Linked DNA regions of Homo sapiens: region 2 is linked to region 1. The links come from fine-mapping of genetic effects on gene expression. A gene starts in region 1. The other region holds a variant in brackets. All regions are shown on one strand. Distances are from middle to middle. Region 1 holds the start of MED19 (mediator complex subunit 19). Region 2 has its middle 120 kb from the start of CTNND1.

Region 1 (9,505 bases):
GAAATAGCTAACTACAACTTCATTTGTAATTATGATAGACACAGAGGGTACAAATGACAAAAATGGCTTGTTTATAATCATTCACTTGGGAAAACTGAGGTACTGAACTGTAAGCTCCTTGGAGGCACAGACAATGTCTTGTTCATTCATGTATCGCTAGTGCCCAGCACAGTACACACATTAGGTGCTTAATAAATATTTATTAAATAAACAAGGCACTTTCCCTCTATACCTCTAGGCCTTATTCATCCTTTTCCTTCCCTTTACTACCAAACAACTCAGAAGACTGAGCGAGGGTAATGGCAGGAGACCCAATGTCACAGTATCTCTCCTCATAACTCTGGGCACTGCCTCTTGCCATTACAATCTTCTGAATTTCCCCTGCTCTGCCAACTCTCCTCTGTCCAGATGGTTATCCTTAAGGCTCAGGTGAGAAGGCAGTCTGTGCTTTTTCTAAACTGTAACTTGAGAGTTCAAATTCCAGTTTTGACTATTCTACAAAGATTACTTTTTATATTTATTTATTTTTTGAGACAGTCTCGCTCTGTCACCCAGGCTGGAGTGTAATGGCACAATCTTAGCTCACTGCAATCTCTGCATCCTGGGCTCAAACTACTTTCCTGCCTCAGCCTCCCAGGTAGCTGGGACTACATGCATACACTGCCATGCTAGGCTAATTTTTGTATTTTTTGTAGAGACAGGGGTCTCCCTATGTTGCCCAGGCTGGTCTTGAACTCCTGGACTCAAGCTATCTGCCTGCCTCAGCCTCCCAAAGTGCTAGGATTACAGGCGTGAACCACCCTGCCCAACAAGATAAAAAAAAAAAAAATTGTTTTGAAATTCCAAATCTTGCCAACATCACTCAGGGCTTCTCTATTTCAATCCATGGCACCCACATGTTCCAGATATTTTTGGAAATCAGTACTCCTCAGTTCACAAATCTTAATGGTTTCTTTTTGCCCTCAGGAGAAAGCTCAAATTCCTTTGACTGGCACTCAAGGCTAATTACATCTTACTCCAACTTAGCTTTGGGGCCTCATCAACCACTACTCTCCTATGCAAAATTTCTGATCCATCCAAATGGATCTCCTTATCGCCTCAAAAAAACACCCCTCACATTATTTCATCTTAGGAAAATTCTTCCTAATTTTTCTTCACCAATATGGATTATTCAAGGTCTAGCTCAAGTGACATCTTATTCTCACTGTCATTCTGGATAGCAACACACTTTGAAAACCATTAGGTAGTTCTTAATATTGATGGCTAAGATATTGTTAATTGCTGTTGTGAGGCATGAGCACAAAATGAGATGGAGGTGACAGGAAATATAGTCACTATCCTTAAACCACAAATTTTACATTCCTAACTAAACTCCTTGAAAAGCAATGACCAGCATTACTAATCTCTCTCTCCATCTCACCCGCCTCATACACCCAGCATTTGCCCAGAACATATATTCAATATCTGTCAACTGACTGATACAAATAGCTACAATCAGAATAGGGAAGGCAAAAGAAAGATTAAAAGAAACCGCTGGTGGACATCAACCACTAACTAATCAAAGGGATGTCAACTTCTCCATGTTTCAGTTTTTTCAATTATAAAATGTAGACAGTAATGCTACCTCAAAGGGCTATTCTAAGTATTAAATACTACTTATATTAAATACTGCATGTAAGTGTGTTGTGAACTTCAAAGTACTATACCAATATTTGTTGCTATTTCCCTCAAGTCATGATGTGGAAATAAGACTTGAGACAATGAAAGGCATCTGGGAGGCTGGGCGCAGTGGCTCACGCCTGTAATCCTGGCACTCTGGGAGGCCAAGGTGGGCGGATCACCTGAGGTTGGGAGTTTGAGATCTGCCTGACCAACAGGGAGAAACCCTGTCTCCACTAAAAATAAAAAATTAGCTGGGTGTGGTGGCACATGCCTGTAATCCGAACTACTCGGGAGGCTGAGGCAGGAGAATCGCTTGAACCTGGGAGGCGGAGGTTGTGGTGAGCTGAGATTGTGCCATTGCACTCCAGCCTGGGCAACAAGAGCAAAACTCTGTTTAAAAAAAAAAAAAAAAGAGGCATCTTGGAGACCAAACATGTCCAAAATAACTCTTGATTTCCACCTCTTCAAACTTGTTCCTTCCTCATCTTCCAAGTCTCCGTACCCATACACCCAATTATTCAAGCCGAAAACTTAAAAAGGCATCAATTCCTCTATTTCCTTCACTTCTATATACAATATATATTTTTAATTGAGACAGGGTCTTCCTCTATCATCCAAGCTGGAGTGCAGTGGCACAATCATGGCTCACTGCAGCCTCAACTTCCTGGGCTCAAGTGATTTCTACCACCTCATCTTCCTAGGTAGCTGAGACTACAGGTGCATGCTGCTATCCCTAGCTAATTTATTTTTATTTTTTGTAGAGATGGGGTCTCATTATGTTGCCCAGGCTGGTCTCAAACTTTTGGGCTCAAGCAATCCTCCCACCTCAGCCTCCCAAAGTGCTGGGATTACTGGCGTGAGCCACAGCGCCTGGCCCTGTATTCAATTTTTCAACCCTGTCAGCTCTACCTCTAACATCCTGTATCCATTTACTTCTCTATGCCCTGCTATGCTCTGGTTCAAACCATTATCTTTCCTGGACTACTGAGCAGTAACTTCTGACTAATTTCCCCACTTTCTATTTGTCATGTGGCTGCTTAAATGATTATAAACAAGTGCATTTGACCAACTTCCTATGTTAAAATGGCTTTCCTTGGCTGGGCACAGTGGCTCAGACCTATAATCCTAGCACTTTGGGAGGCCAAGGCGGGAGGACTGCTGTTGGCCAGGAGTTCAAGACCAGCTTGCGCAACACAGTAAGACCCAGTCTCTACAAAAAAATTTTAAGTTAGCCAACTGTGGTGGTGCATGCCTGTAGTCCTAGCTACTTGGAAGGCTGAGGTGGGACGACAGCATGAGCCTAGGAACTGGAGGTTACAGTGAGCTATGATTATACCACTGCAGTCCAGCCTGGGTGACACAGTGAGACCTTGTGTCTATAAAAAAATTTTTTAAATGGCTTCCTTTTGTATTTACAATCTAAATGCCTTTACTGCTTTATAAAAGCCTCTGCCTAACTCTCCCAGCTTCATCTCTCTCCCTAACACTCTTTCCTTTTGTTCACTTCACTGGAGTCCAACTGATTTTCTGTCCCTCAGATATTCTAAGCTTTTTCTCACATCAGGGTTTCTGACCTCATTTCTTGTATCTACAATTGTCTCTCCCTCCTGTCCATACATGGCTGGCCCTTTGTCTATGCTTACATTTTAGTTCAAATGTTAGCTATGTGAAGAGAGCATCTCTGGCCACTCTAGCTAAAGTAGTTCTGCCCCTCAATTTTTTTTTTTTAAGAGACAGGGTCTCATCTGTTGCCCAGGCTGGAGTGCAGTGGCACAATCTTGGTTCACTGCAGCCTCGACCTCCTGTGTTCAAGCGATTCTCCTCCCTTAGCCTCCTGAGTAGCTGGGGCTACAGGCATGCATTACCACGCCCGGTTAATCTTGTATATTTTGTAGAGACTGGGTCTCGCCATGTTGCCCATGCTGGTCTCAAACTCCTGGGCTCAAGGGATTCTGCCTCGGCCTCCCAAAGCGCTGGGATTACAGGCGTGAGCAACGCGCCTGGCCACCTTCAATTTTTATCATGTTTTCTTTTCCTAGCATTAACCACTTTCTGACATTATCTTGTTTACAATGCCTCCTCCACTGAAATGTACATCCCAAAAAAGGCAAGCATCTTGTCAGTCTTGTTCACAACTGTCTCCAGCATTTAGAAAAGTGCTTGGTACATAGGTACTCAACAAAATAATTTTTTGAATGAAGAGTTTGGTTCGATTCTTATCCCTTTTTTGATCAGACCAGGAAATGCCGGAACCTTAGAAGGAAGAATGGCAACTTGCCCCAAACCAATAGCAAGTCTGTGGGAGACCTGTAACTAAAACTTTGGGTCCCCAAAGATATTAAATCAGGCCTCTCGAGTTCCAAACTCAAACCCTGGATTTTGTTTGTTTTGAGACGGAGTCTCGTTCGCCCAGGCTGGAGTGCAGTGGAGCAATGTCGGCTCTCTGCAACCTCCGCCTCCCGGGGTTCAAACGATTCTCCCGCCTCAGCCTCCCGAGTAGCTGGAATTAAAGGTATACGCCACCACGCCCAGGTAATTTTTGTGTTTTTTGTGGAGACAGGGTTTCATCATGTTGGCCAGGCCGGTCTCGAACTCCTGACCTTAGGTGATTCGCCCGCCTCCGCCTCCCAGAGTGTTGGGATTACAGGCGTGAGCCACCGCGCCCAGCCCTAGGTCATTTTTTAGAGAGACATAAACCAGTGTCAGGGACACAGCCTGGACATGGTGCAAAAGACAGTAACGGAGATGCACTACGCCCCTGCCCGCCATTCATCCCTTTGGTTGAATTCAACTCATCCTGGTTGAATTCAAGTCATCCCTCTGCTTGTGAATCCTAACAGCGCTTCCGACTTAGGGCTCCACAGTCCGGGTATGCGTTGCCTAGGTTACCTCGCACCTCCGCTAGCCGGCTGAGAGCCACGCCCATCACCTCCTCTCTAAGATTTGATTGGCTGGCTTTGGCAAGGCCGAGTACTCACCTGGCAGTTCCCTCATGAGGTAAAAAGGGCCACAGCCAGCTCCTGACTTGTCCGCGCCAGGAGGAGCCGTGGCCGCGGTGGGAGGCGGGGCCGTGCCGGGTCCCCCGCCCGCAGGAGGCGGTGGCGGGGGTGGAGGCTTTCCTGGTCCGAAGCCGAGTGCGGTTGGGGGCGGTGGTGGGTCAGCCTGAGCCCCAAACAGTGCCGTGAAATTCTCCATCGTACCCTCCGCCCCGGCGCTGTCTCCGTGTCTGCCGTTGGTAATTTTCATTGGACAATGCTTTCAAGGAGTACCCCCCCGCCCTTTCTCAAGGAGCCGCTTGTCATTGGATGCCTCAGGCACCGCCTACCTTTTTTCAACAACTACTTCCGTCGCCTTATGAGAACGTTCAGGAAGTGCTATTTAACCTTATTAGAGTCTTCTGCTAGCTCTGCTTGCTACAGTCCAATAAAATGACTTAGGCGGATAAAGCGACAACTAGACTAACCAATAAAATATTAAGTTCTTTTTTGGGTTCTGACCTACCACAGCGTTCAGAGAACTACATCCGGGTTTAGAGGCCGTACGTTTGCGATATAGCCCAATAGCAGTCGTTATGGTGGGGGAGGCGGGGCGAGACCTACGACGCCGGCGAGCAGTGGCCGTTACGGCCGAAAAGATGGCGGTCTTGGCACCTCTAATTGCTCTCGTGTATTCGGTGCCGCGACTTTCACGATGGCTCGCCCAACCTTACTACCTTCTGTCGGCCCTGCTCTCTGCTGCCTTCCTACTCGTGAGGAAACTGCCGCCGCTCTGCCACGGTCTGCCCACCCAACGCGAAGACGGTAACCCGTGTGACTTTGACTGGGTGAGCCTCCCGCGTGTTAGTACCCCGCGACCTTGACTGTCCCTGCCCTTGCAGGTGTATCTGGGAACCCTGGGGTTTACCTCTCTGAGGACACCTGAGGTTCCGAGCCTGTAGCGGACTTAGAGACTATTAAGTGCAGGGTCCGAACCATCATCGAGTCTAAACTTTGTGTTTAAGATGGGAAAACGGAACATGTTAGTCGTAGCCCATGCACAACGGCCCAACAGCTTTTGACTGTTGAGTCCAGGTTTCTTTCTGTTTCACCATTGAGACTAATTAACAGCCCTATCAAAACTGTACATACACGTGTATAACGTTTTACAGTGCCGCTCATTATGTAAAGCCTCCTGAGGAGCCAGTAAGGTAGACAAGGCAAGTAGTAATATTCCTGTTTCATTGGTGAAGAAATGGATCTCGGTATATTTAGGTGACTTGCCCCAGGTCATACAACTAATGAGTGCCTGGGACTTGAAACTACTCTTCTGGCCACACTACCTGCACAACACTGTCAGCCGCTTCTTAATTCAATAAACATTTCTAGAGTGTACACTCTAGGCACTCTGCTTGATCCTGAAGATGCGAAAGTGGATAAAATTTGGGGGCTACTGTAAAGGAATTGTAAAAAATACGTTGTAAAGAAATCTTTGGGATTTCTTTGGGAAGTGTCCCAAGCTCCTTGCTGTGCTTCCTTGGTATGGGTGGAGGGACTGCTCGGAACATAAACTTAAAGCACTTTCCCTTCTGCCATATAGCATGTAGGGGCCAAGGAAAAGCTTCCCCTTTGCTCTCTGAGGGTTTGTTGAAAAATCAACCGACAAAGGGCACATTAATAGGAGAAAGGCATAGAAATTTTATTTTAACGTGCATAGCATGAGGGAATTGCAGGAGAATGACCCAGTGGGGTACAGATGCTTATATACCCTCTTTCATAGGAATATGGGAGATGGGAAAATGTGGGTGATTTTAAGGTGGATCGTAAATGATTTTTAGGGTGATTCAGTGGCCTGGAGAACATACAGTGGCCTGGGACAATGACTGTTGGGCCTGCAGAGCAGACAATGGTTTCTGACAAAAATCTGTCCAGGTGTGTTGACAGGCTTCCATCTTTCTTCTTGTACTGAAGTAAGTTAATGAAAACTCAGGGAAGAGACCAGAAGTAATTGTTGTCTTCTTTGACAGGTCTGGACTTTAGGCAGATAAGGTAGTTATCAGAGTAAAGCTGCTTCCAGTATCTGCTGGTTTCCAGGGACCTTTAATTTAAAATGATTAGCATACAGGATGCCATATTTTGGGGTGTGAGTCCCTGGTCTTCTTTATTTCCTTTGTCTGAAACTTCCTTAGAAGTTTCACTATAAGCTGAGTTGGTGTCTGTGGAGAGAGAAATCGGGCTAGTAATTGAGCGGCAAAGGATCCCATTAAACCAGCCTCTCATTTTGGGGGATAGTCCAGTTCAATTAAATTGTTGTGTCTCATTTCAGAAGATGGCATTGTAGATGAGTTCTCAAAGCTAGGCCTCTGTATATGATGTAGGCAAACAGGTATTTAATAAGAGAGACATTTCTATGGAACAAGACAAACAAAGCTTAATATCTGGTATAGTCTATAAACTAGTTTCTTTAGAGTCTGGAGGGCAGTCAATTGGGAAGATTAATAGCAATCTATTTTCCTAGATTGTAGGTTGTGTGTAAAGTTTGTCCAAATATAAGCTTTTGTGGTGATTTTTTTTTCAAAGTCACGTTGACTAGCTTTAGCTGGTAAGGCCTTAGGAAAAAGGCAGGGTTTTTAGTTTTTTGGATTTTTTTTTGAGACAAGGTCTTGCTCTGTCATCCAAGCTGGAGTGCAGTGATGTGATCATGGCTCACTGTAGTCTTAACCTCCTGGGCAAAGCCATCCTGCCACCTCAGCTTTCCAGGTAGCTGGAACCAAAGGCATGCACTACACACCTGGCTAATTTTTAAAAATTTTTTTTCAAGGTGGGGTCTCTTGATGTTGCCCAGGCTGGTCTTGAACTCCTGAGCTCAAGGGATCCTCCTGACTTGGCTTCCTAAGGAGCTGGGATTTACAGGTGTGAGCCACTGCGCCAAGCTAAAAAAGGCCGTTTTAATTTTTAGTGATTCTAAGTCAGAAGAGTGGGTGAAAAATGGAAAACATTAGTCTGGAGGTTAGCAATTTTATGAGTCCAGTTTTATTTTCATTAGACTTTGGAAATTTTTACCCAGTCCGGTGATACAGTTTCAAAGTTATCAGAAACCTTTATTTGTCAGCATTCTTCCCATGCTTTCCATGATCCTCCTTGAAAATAAGACACTTGGCCAGGCATGGTGGCTCACATCTGTAATCCCAGCACTTTGGGAGGCTGAGGCGGGTGGATTTCCTGAGCTCAGGAGTTCGAGACCAGCCTGGCCAACATGGTGTAACCCCGTCTCTACTAAAAATACAAAAAATTAGCTGGGTGTGGTGGTGGGTGCCTGTAATCCCAGCTACTCTGGAGGCTAAGGCAGGAGAATCACTTGAACCTGAGAGGCAGAGGTTGCAGTGAGCCAGGATCGTGCCATTGCACTCCAGCCTGGGCAACAAGAGCAAAGTTCTGTCTCAAAATAAATAAATAAATAAAATTAAAAAAATATATTTTATATATAATATATATGTATTAATGTGCTTTTAATACTAAAGCTGATTTTAATAAACTTTACAAACAAATCTGTCTAATCTTGATCAGCTTTGACTAGACAAGATAAAATTTCCATAAACCTTTTATAACCTCTTAGAATTTGTTTTCTTTTTTTTTTCTTTTATTGATCATTCTTGGGTGTTTCTCGCAGAGGGGGACTTGGCAGGGTCATAGGACAATAGTGGAGGGAAGGTTGGCAGATAAACAAGTGAACAAAGGTCTCTGGTTTTCCTAGGCAGAGGACCCTGCCGCCTTCCGCAGTGTTTGTGTCCCTGGGTACTTGAGATTAGGGAGTGGTGATGATTCTTAACGAGCATGCTGCCTTCAAGCATCTGTTTAACAAAGCACATCTTGCACCGCCCTTAATCCATTTAACCCTGAGTGGACACAGCACATGTTTCAGAGAGCACAGGGTTGGGGGTAAGGTCACCGATCAACAGGATCCCAAGGCAGAAGAATTTATCTTAGTACAGAACAAAATGAAAAGTTTCCCGTGTCTACTTCTTTCTACACAGACACGGCAACCATCCGATTTTTCAATCTTTTCCCCACCTTTCCCCCCTTTCTATTCCACAAAACCGCCATTGTCATCCCGGCCCGTTCTCAATGAGCTGTTGGGTACACCTCCCAGACGGGGTGGTGGCTGGGCAGAGGGGCTCCTCACTTCCTAGTAGGGGTGGCCGGGCAGAGGCGCCCCTCACCTCCCGGACCGGGCGGCTGGCCGGGCGGGGGGCTGACCCTCCCACCTCCCTCCTGGACGGGGCGGATGGCCGGGCGGGGGGCTGACCCCCCCCCACCTCCCTCCCGGATGTGGGGCTGACCCCCCCACCTCCCTCCCGGACGGGGCGGCTGGCCGGGCGGGGGGCTGACCCCCACACCTCCCTCCCGGACGGGGCGGCTGGCCGGGCGAGGGGCTGACCCCCCCACCTCCCTCCCGGACGGGGCGGCTGGCCGGGCGGGGGGCTGACCCCCCCACCTCCCTCCCGGACGGGGCGGCTGGCCGGGCTGAGGGGCTCCTCACTTCCCAGTAGGGGCGGCCGGGCAGAGGCGCCCCTCACCTCCCGGACGGGGCGGCTGGCCGGGCGGGGGGCTGACCCCACCTCCCTCCCGGACGGGGCGGCTGGCCGGGTGGGGGGCTGACCCCCCCACCTCCCTCCCGGACGGGGCGGCTGGCCGAGCGGGGGGCTGACCCCCCCACCTCCCTCCCGGACGGGGCGGCAGGCCGGGTGGGGGGCTGACTCCCCCACCTCCCTCCCGGACGGGGTGGCTGGCCAGGCAGAGGGGCTCCTCACTTCCCAGTAGGGGCGGCTGGGCAGAGGCGCCCCTCACCTCCCGGACGGGGCGGCTGG
Region 2 (9,849 bases), 170 kb after region 1:
CCTTCAGAGACACACCTATTAATAATTCTCAATTGTTGTGACCTCGGCAACAGCCTTCCAGGTGTACTTTGAGGTTCCCAAGTGCAGAGTATTTCCAGGTTTCCTCTATCATCCCTCCAGGTCTCCTCAAGCATCCCTCCAGGTCTCCTCTAGCATCCCTCCAGGTCTCCTCTAGCATCCCTCCAGGTCTCCTCTAGCATCCCTCCAGGTCTCCTCTATCATCCCTCCAGGTCTCCTCTATCATCCCTTCCGGCTTCCTCTATAATCCCGCAATGCCATCCCTCAGTCCTTCTAGTAAGACTTCCCTTTCCCCAGTGAGTCCTTGTTTTGTGTGCTGTTGTCATCTGGCAGTTGATTTTTACTCACACACATATTTAGAATTGTGTAACAGGGTCTGTCAATGTTTCTAAGTCTTTCTTCCCTCCTGCATGGTGTTGCTTTGCTTCCCTATCACATAACTTCTGAGAGCAGAGGCTGTTTTAAGCTATATAAGAAGCTGTCAGTGACTATTTGAACAACTACTATAATCTGAAAATATTTGAACAATTGCAGTCGTTCAAAAGGGTTTAAACAATTATGGTTGTTCAAAGTATTTAAACCATCATAGTTGTTCAAAGTATTTAAACAATAGCATAAGACACGGCTGTGGCCACTTAAGATCTTAAAATTTTGTTAAGAGACACACTTGCTTCCATGAAAACGAGTGAAGTTGGGTGGAGCCCACTGCCAGCAGGAACCCATTGAGGGAAGGGTGATTGCAGCTTGGGGTGCTCTGGGGAGACTTCAGGACCAGGAGGCACGGGGCTGAGCCTTGAGGAATGAGAAAGGTGTTGCTAGTTGGAGGAGATGGGGAAGTGCGATCACCTGGAACTGGGAATTAACCTCAGTAAACATTTACCGGGCAAAAGGTGCATTGGAAGGGGTCAGGAAACTTGGCAGAGTTACTTAACCTCTCTGAGCCTCAGTTTCTGTGAGGATTGAAAGACAATGCGTGTCAATGTTGTACTCAGCACACTTCTGGAAACAAGGTAGGTACCTGATGTACATTAACTTCCACCAAGTTAGATTATGCGTACCTGATGAATGGGGAGCTGGAAAACATTGCTCAAGACCGTTGAATACCATGGGATCTCAGGAAATGCTTAAAGGCTGACAGAGTAAGGGATGGTGTGGGTGTGGATTTTGAAGGGAAGGGGAAGAGAACAGGCAACCTCAGCCTTCTGAATCAGCTCTGGTGGAACGCAGTAAAATCTGCAATAGAAAAATACCAACCTTAGCAGATGGTGCTCCCCAGCCCGATATACCTCAAGATGGCTGGGGGGACTCAAGATCCTCCCAGGCCAGCCACGTAGGGGTAGTTCTGGGACTCCCTTCCACTCCAGCCTGTATCTTCAATTTCTCCTCTCTAAAGCTGTTCCTGGGGTAGCCACACATTCAGACTTGATAAGACACACAGCTCAGGCAAACAGGATGTGGCATTCAGGACTGAAGCTACGGTTGCATCTTGGTCCTGCCCAGAGCTTATAAAGCTGGCTTCATCTCCTCTTGATCTCTGGTGGCTCTGGAGGCTTAGAGCTCTGGAAGGTCCTTGAAACACACCACCTCCCTACCTGGGAGGTTCAGGCCTCAGGGAAGAAGAGATTATCTCTCCCTCTAGATTTCAGGCATTTGTTTTGTTCTTGAGGCACAGCGGGGATAGGGGGGTTAGGATCTCCTTGAGGAGATGGAGTTTGTCGTTCTAGTTTTTTTTAAGGTAGGATTTCCCTATGTTGCCCCCCAGGCTGGTTTCGAACTCCTGGGCTCAAGCTATTCCCCTGCCTCATTCTCCCAAAGTGCTGGGATTACAGGCTTGAGCCATGATGCCTAGCCATTGTCACTCCGTTCTTGGCAGTAGAAAGTCTTAGCACGAGCCGGTAGGAGACGTCCTGCCTCCTCCTTGGATTCTGAAGTCTGAACGAGGAAAAGTCATCTTGTCCCTTGGGAGCTTACAGGAACCTGGGGGACAGTCTATGAGGTTTTTGACTAAATGACCCAAGGGGCCTTCTTTGCTGAACATTGAGGGTCTGTTGTGGGCCTCAATACTGATCAAACAAATCGGGGACACTAAGTTCAGAGGTTGGTAAGGAGCTGAGAGTGGTCTAGGGTTAGGGCCAGGGCTAGAGCTAAGTCCCTTTTTGCGTCATAAACTTCCGTCACTGTTGCTCAAGGCTGGGTCCCAGCAGTGACGGAGCACTGAGGGGAGCTGGGAGCACACTAGGGCAGGGACTCTGGGGCCCTTCCAGGAAGCTCTCTAGGCTTCACCCACTGGGGACTCATCGGAGGAGGCACTAGGGGCCTTGTTAATGGAATGGGTAGTTTATATTAGCAATTAAAAAATATGATATTTAAAAAAAAATGCTGCTGGGTGCAGTGGCTCACTTCTGTGGTCCCAGCACTTTGAGATGCTGAGGCGGGCAGATCACCTGAGGTCAGGAGCTCGAGACCAGCCTGACCAACACGGAGAAACCCCGTCTCTACTGAAAATACAAAATTAGCTGGGTGTGGTGGCCCATGCCTGTAATCTCAGCTACTCGGGAGGCTGAGGCAGGAGAATCATTTTCACCCAGGAGGCACAGGTTGCGGTGAGCCGAGATCGCGCCGTTGCACTCCAGCCTGGGCAACAAGAGCGAAACTCCATCTCAAAATCCAAGGGAAAAACAAGACAAAAAATAAAAAAATAAAAAGATGATATTTCCAGAAATGAAGCTAACTTCTAAGCACAGGAAATGCTGATGGGCATAAGGAGGAGCCAAGGGATTTGTTACCAGGAGCGAACACACAGACTGATCATCTCCCAGTTGTTGCTTCTCTCCTCCTTTCCTCCCTCTCTGACAGCGCTTTGTGGTGGGAGGGTGGGTTCCTCCTTACGCTTGTGTCAGCTGACTCCGCTGTCCTGAGACTGCGTCTCGAGGAGCTCAGCTGAGGCTACTGGAGTGCTGGTGGTTGTGGTTCTGTGAATAATGGATTGTTCCAGCTAAAGGGAATTACACAGTATCCAGTCCGGCGGGCTCTCAGCTGAGATGTGACGGTACAGCAGTGCCTGAGGCAGGATTGGAGTCCCGAACATGGGAAGACCAAGAACATGCTTGGGGCACCAGCAAAGTAGACGCATCAAAAAAAAAAAAAAAAAAAAAAAAAAGACTCATTTGGACATTTTTTTAAAAAGCACCAGGAAAGGATAGAACGTTGGAATTTGCTTTAAAATAATCTGGCTGGGAAGAGTGGAAAGATAAAGCAAGAACTGATTATAAAATGATAAATGTTGAGGCTGAGTGATAGGTACATGGAAGTCAGTTTATTATACTGTCTGCTTTGGTATATATTTGAACCTTTTAATGGTAATTTTTAAAAACATCGAAGCATCATAGAAAAATTAAAACTTTGTTGCAATTCCTTATACTGAAGTTTTTTTTCAGTTTGGAACTGGGTTAAAGAAAATTCCTAAGTGAGGCTGGGCTCACTGGCTCAAGCCTGTAATCCCAGCACTTTGGGAGACCAAGGCGGGCAGATCACTGGAGGCCAGGAGTTCGAGACCAGTCTGGCCAACATGGCGAAACACCATCTCTACTAAAAACACAAAAAAATTAACCGGGTTTGGTGGTGCACACCTGTAGACCCAGCTACTTGGGAGTCTGAGGTGAGAGAATCTCTTGAACCCAGGAGGTGGAGGTTGCAGTGAGCTGAGATTGTGCCACTGCACTCTAGTCTGGGTGACATAGGGAGACCCTGACTAAAAAAAAAAAGAAAGAAAGAAAATTCATAAGTGGAGTGGTATGCACATAATTTTTCAGTGCTGCTGGAATTATAGACGTGAGCCACCATGCCCAGCTCAGCACTCATCTTAACAGGAAATAAAGCTGGTGTTCAATGAGAAGTGACTTACCCAGGGTCATACAACTAATTAGTTCTAGACTCAAAATTGTAACCCGTGTCTCTTGGATTCCAGTCTACAAATCTTTATGTGGTCCCATCATCCTGTCAAAGAGTGCCTGGTCAATAATTTGGCATAAATGAATGCACAGAGCTTTTTGTCTTGCCCTAACAAGAAGCTTCAGTACTTTGTTACTTTGATTTTTTTGGGTAATTTTTTTTTAATTGAAAACACAAAGATTTAGATGTGTCTACCACTTGACTTAATAAACATGAATATTTTTGTTATACGTTTCAAATATGTTTATTTTTTATTTGTATTAAAAAATTTTTTCAGAGA[T/TG]GGGGTCTCATTCTGTTGCCCAGACTGGCCTCAAACTCCTGGGCTCAAGCGATCCTCCTGCCTCCTCACCGTCTTGAATAGCTGGGACTTCAGGCACATGCCACCATGCCTGGCCTACATACATATTTATTTATTTGAGATGGAGTCTCACTTTATCACCCAAGCAGAGTGCAGTGGGGCGATCTTGGCCCACTGCGAGCTCCGCCTCTCAGGTTCAAGCGATTCTCCTGCCTCAGCCTCCTGAGTAGCTGGGATCACAGATGCCCACTACCATGCCTGGCTAATATTTGTATTTTTAGTAGAGAGGGAGTTTCACCATATTGGCTAGGCTGGTCTCGAACTCCTGACCTCAGGTGATCCATCCACCTCAGTTTCCCAAAGTGCTGGGATTATAGGCGTGAGCCACTGTGCCCAGTTTACAAGGTGTTTTTTTTTTTTTGAGACAGAGTCACACTATGTTGCCCAGGCTGGAGTGCAGTGGTGTGACCTTGGCTTACTGCAATCTCCACTTCCCAGGTTCAAGTGATTCTCATGCCTCAACCTCCCGAGTAGCTGGGATTACAGGCATGTGCCACTATGCCCAGCTAATTTTTGTATTTTTAGTAGAGACAGAGTTTCACCATGTTGTCTAGGCTGGTCTCAAACTCCTGACCTCAAGTGATCCTCCCGCCTCAGCCTCTCAAAGTGCTGGGATTACAGGCATGAGTCACCATGCCCAGCCTTACATAAATATTTAATCAGATAACACACTACAGGTCATTGAAATCCCTATGTATTCTACCCGAGTCCTATGCCTCTCCCTTGCTAGAGAGACAACCATTATCATAAATTTGGCTTGTATCCTTCAGTGCAGGAAAGCATAATTTTCAAAAAAATTAAAACAATAAGATATTGGATTGGATATTCAAGTGGTTCTTGTCCTATATGCAATAAACTGTAAACTTTGGGGCTATCTTTTCTATAAGACAGAAATTATTTGCATCTCTACTGAACAAGAATGTGTAAGTTAACATGTAATTTCACTAAATTTGAGACTTTTAGTCAATAGGAAGCAGTGAGTCAAATCAAGTATATTCTCCTGAATTACCCTTGGTGGACCTATTAAATCTATTAAATAATGTCCCCATATGATATTGAAAGGACATCCCACACCTTTTCCCATTATTTCCACGTTTAGAATAATTTTTTTTAGCAAGTCTATATTTTACTACTGATGTGAATCTATAAGTAATAATAATAATCATGAGCATTTATTGGTGCCAGCACTCTTTTAAGGCAAAGGTACATATTAAGTCCATTTAGTCCCTCGACACCAACATTAGGTCCAATTATTATTCTTATTTTACAGATGGAAAACAGACACAGAGAAGTAAATTCCACAGTTATATACAGTTAGAAAGTGGAAGAACTATGATTTAATCCCAGAGTTTACATATTAGTTTGCCATTTGCTGTTTTGCTCTCAACATAATATTTTGAAGAACTCTTCAGGATGTTAATATAGTTATTAAAAAAAATAGAGATGGGGTGTCTCTTTGTTGCCCAGGATGGTCTTAAACTCCTGGCCTCAAGCAATCCTCTCACCTTGGCCTCCCAAAGTGCTGGGATTGCTGGCATGAGCCACCATGCCCAGCCAATGCTAATAACATAGTTATAGTTCATCATTCATTTTAACTATAATTTTACCATAGAGTGTTCCACTGTATATAGTATGTATCTGGTTACATACAACGTGTGTGAACCGTCACTTTATGTTAAATGAAGTAAACCAGACTCAAAAGGACAACTGTTGCATGATCTCACTTATACAATGATATGGTTTGGAATTGTGTTCCACTCAAATCTCATGTCCAGTTGTAATCCCCAGTGTTGGAGGAGGGGCGTAGTGGGAGGTGATTGGATCATGGGGGAGGACTTCTGCCTTGCTGTTCTTGTGATAGTGAGTGAGTTCTCATGATATCTGGTTGTTTAAAAGTGTGTGGCATCTGGCTGGGCGCAGTGGCTAACACCTGTAATCCCAGTACTTTGGGAGGCTGAGGCAGGTGGATCACCTGAGGTCAGGAGTTCGAGGCCAGCCTGGCCAGCATGGTGAAACCCTGTCTCTACTAAAAATACAAACATTAGCTGGGTGTGGTGGTGCCCGCCTGTAATCCCAGCTACTCGGGAGGCTGAAGCATGAGAATCGCTTGCACCCAGGAGGCAGATGTTGCAGTGAGCTGAGATAGTGCCACTGCACTCTGGGTGACAGAATGAGACTCCATTTCAAAAAAAAAAAAAAAAAAAAGTGCGTGGCACCTCTCTTCTTCCTGCTCCAGCTATGTAAGACATCCCTGCTTCCCCTTCACCTTCTGCCATGATTGAAAGTTTCCTGAGGGCTTCTCAGCCATGCTACCTGTACAGTCTTCAGAACTGTAAGCAAATTAAACCTCTTTTCTTTATAAATTACCCAGTCTCATGTATTTCTTCATAGCAGTGCAAGAACAGACAAATACAAGATAACTAGAATAGGCAAATTCATAGATACAGAAAGTAGACTAGGGGCTGGGGGAAGAAGGGAGGGAATGGGAAGTTGTTAATAGGTACAGAGTTTCTGTCTGAGATGATGAAAGATTCTGAAAAGGGACAGTGTTGATGCTTGCACAATATTGTGAATGCACTTAAATTGTATATGTACAATCTATATTGTATGCAATATACTTAGATTGTAAATTGTATATTTGAATGGTTAAAATGATAAACTCTATGTTAAAAAGAGAGGATGTGATGGTTCCTGACTTCCAGGCTTGCTGTAAGAGTTAAATGATAGACTACTTGTGAGAGAACAGGAACACATTGCAGATACTCAGTAAATTGTAGCTGCTGCTAGTTTCTTCCTCCTCTTCTCCCTCGTTTCCTTAGAAAAAGTCAAAAGAGCATGGCTTTTCTTTTGATCTGTATTAATTTCTGAGTTCAGAGTCTGAACATACAATTGTGTAGCTAACTTCCCACTGTCTACATGGGGCCTACTACCCCACCTACTGTCATTTCTTTTTTTTTTTTTTTTGGGACAGTCTTACTCTGTTGCCCAGGCTGGAGTGCAGTGGCATGATCTCAGCTTGCTGCAACCTCCGCCTCCTGGATTCAAGCGATTCTCCTGCCTCAGCCTCCCGAGTCACTGGGATTACAAGCATGCTCCAAAATGCCTGGCTAATTTTTGTATTTTTAGTAGAGATGGGGTTTCACCATGTTGGCCAGGCTGGCTTGAACTCCTGACCTCAGGTGATCCTCCCACCTCGGCCTCCGAAAATGCTAGGATTACAAGTGTGAGCCACTGCGCCCGGCACCCACCTGCTGTCATTTCTAACCCTACCAGGTGGCTGCCTTTCTCAGCCTGGGCTTTTTTACTTTGCCATCGTTGGATGAGTATTTAGAAAGCTCCAGTTTTTCTTAGTGTTAGCCTCCACAAGCACTTAGAAGGAAAATCTGCTGTCAAAACACATTACCTTGTGGGTTTCTGAGACTGAGTTATGTTTGGGGTATCTGTGCAACTGCTGTCTTCCCATGGATGCTGATAACCAAGTGCTGACTGTGAAGGACAAATACAGACATAGAAATGGAGGTGAATGTGTGGACTTTGTTGATTGTTTAAACAGCATAAGCCCAAAGAAGCCAATTTATATGGAAGTGAGAGTAGGTGGGAGAGAGCCCAAGGAGGCCGAAAGAGCATGGCTTTTGCAATTAAACAGGTAAAGACAATCTGGCTTCATCACATTTACCTCGGTTACAATTAGCCTAAGGTTTCTGTTTGCAAAATGAGCGTAAAATACCACAAAGTGTGGTTGTAAAGATTCACCTGAGAGGCATGTCAGTTTGTAAAGCATGGGTTAAGTCTAATTGCCTTCCTTCTCTATTTTGGAATAGAATGAATTAATTAAGCAGGTGTTTTCTCATGGACCCACAAAATGTAAAGTAGAGGAGAGGAAGGACCAATATTTCCCAATAGATAAAGAGAGAAAAAAGAATAGAGTATGTGCGAGGATGGCAAACTTTGTGTAAGGTGAGAAGAGAATAGGGCTTAGGTTTTAGTAGGAGCTTAAAAGAATAACTTGCTGAATTAATGGAATATTTGTTAGATGGGTCTATTACATTTGTCCAGCTACAAGTGACAGAAAACTCAAGCAAGGTGACTTAAGCTGTAAGAATATTTATTCTTTGTTTACAAGAAGTTTTGCAGTGGTCTTGTCAGGAAATGTCTTCTGCAGAAGCCAAGAACCAGCTGGCTGATTTCTCCTAAAGCTCATTGGCCAGATGTATATCATATGATCACTTCTAGCCACAAAGGGCCTGGGAAAGAGCAATTGGCTTATCAAGCCTCTATAGTTTGATGCAGTCAAGAGAGAAAGGGTGGACATTTTTGTTGAGTCTGTAACAGTGGGCTTAGATTGGTAAGAAAGACAAGCATGGTTACTTAATCTACTGATACCAGGTGAGGCTCAGAAAAATGTGCCCTGGATGAATTTGGTGTCTACATGTAAACTGCTGTCACTGTGAAGGAAAAACAAAAACTTCCTCTTATCTGACTGGGCGTGGTGACTCACACCTGTAATCCCAGCACTTTGGGAGGCTGAGGCAGGTGGATCACTTGAGACCAGGAGTTCAAGACCTACCTGGCCAATATGGAGAAACCCTGTCTTTACTAAAAATACAAAAATTAGCCGGGGGTGGTGGTGCATGCCTGTAATCCCTGCTACTCAGGAGGCTGAAGCATGAGAATCGCTTGAACCCAGGAGGCGGAAGCTGCAGTGAGCTGAGATCGCACCACTGCCCTCCATAGTCCAGCCTGGGCAACAGTGAGACTCTGCCTACATAAATAATAAATAAATAAACAAACTTTCTCTTACCTTACCTTGAATATCCTCTCTGTAGCACATGTTCAAATCCTACCTACATATACCTACTGTTTGCTTATTCATGCTTATATGCAGGTATTTTATGCATTAATTAATGTGATAGATATTAATTAAATGCCTACCATGTGCAAGGAGCTGCCCTAGGTCCTTTGACTATCATGGTTTTTATTATCAAGGAGGTTACAGTCTGGTAGAAGAGATATTACTGTACTTCAATGATTATATAATGAACAGCACAAAGGTTTAAGTGCCCTAAAAGAAGTGCTTAGAAGTGCTGTGAAAGGTTCTATGAATGCAGAAATTACTTCTGGCTGGTTTAATCAGGAAAGATTTTTTGGGGGGTGGTGTAGGGAGGTAGGGTTTGCATTGATACAGGTTAAAGAGAGGTGGAGAGGAAAGGTGGTCACCGCGAGATGAAACAGTAGGAATAGGCTGAGAGGGGGAAGTGCTGGGCTTGCCAAGCAATTCTGATCTCTGGTTCCTCCCTTTAGTGACTTCCTGTCTTGCTTTTTGGTGGGGCCACACTTACGTCAATAATTACATACTTTTCATTTATGTGTGTGTATATCCTTTTCCCTCCTAACCAGACTGTAGCATCCACACAGCTGCCCATAACAGGTTCTCAATAAATATCTGATGAGTTCCTTGTTAATATTAATTACTATTCTTTAAGATTTATATAGTGACCATTTCCAAGAAGACTTGATATCTT

What was found. PIP is the estimated chance that this variant, and not a neighbour inherited with it, causes the effect. A credible set is the group of variants that fine-mapping cannot tell apart.
Region 2: its variant is the best candidate, but not a certain one, in a credible set for the expression of MED19 in breast (GTEx, PIP 0.72).

The regions. Positions count from the first base shown.
Region 1 is chr11:57,707,323-57,716,827 of GRCh38, forward strand. It overlaps MED19 (mediator complex subunit 19), which reads right to left and starts at 4,893. Exons shown (of 5, transcript NM_001317078.4): 1 at 4,641-4,893. The coding sequence starts at 4,857. TMX2 (thioredoxin related transmembrane protein 2) reads left to right here and starts at 5,271. Exons shown (of 8, transcript NM_015959.4): 1 at 5,271-5,485. The coding sequence starts at 5,297. It overlaps TMX2-CTNND1 (TMX2-CTNND1 readthrough (NMD candidate)), which reads left to right and starts at 5,201. Exons shown (of 21, transcript NR_037646.1): 1 at 5,201-5,485. RefSeq lists a silencer at 4,524-4,863 and an enhancer at 8,231-8,741.
Region 2 is chr11:57,872,236-57,882,084 of GRCh38, forward strand. No RefSeq gene overlaps it. Among named protein-coding and RNA genes, the nearest start is that of CTNND1, 120 kb to the left of the region's middle. The variant T/TG (reference allele first, on the strand shown) is at 4,250.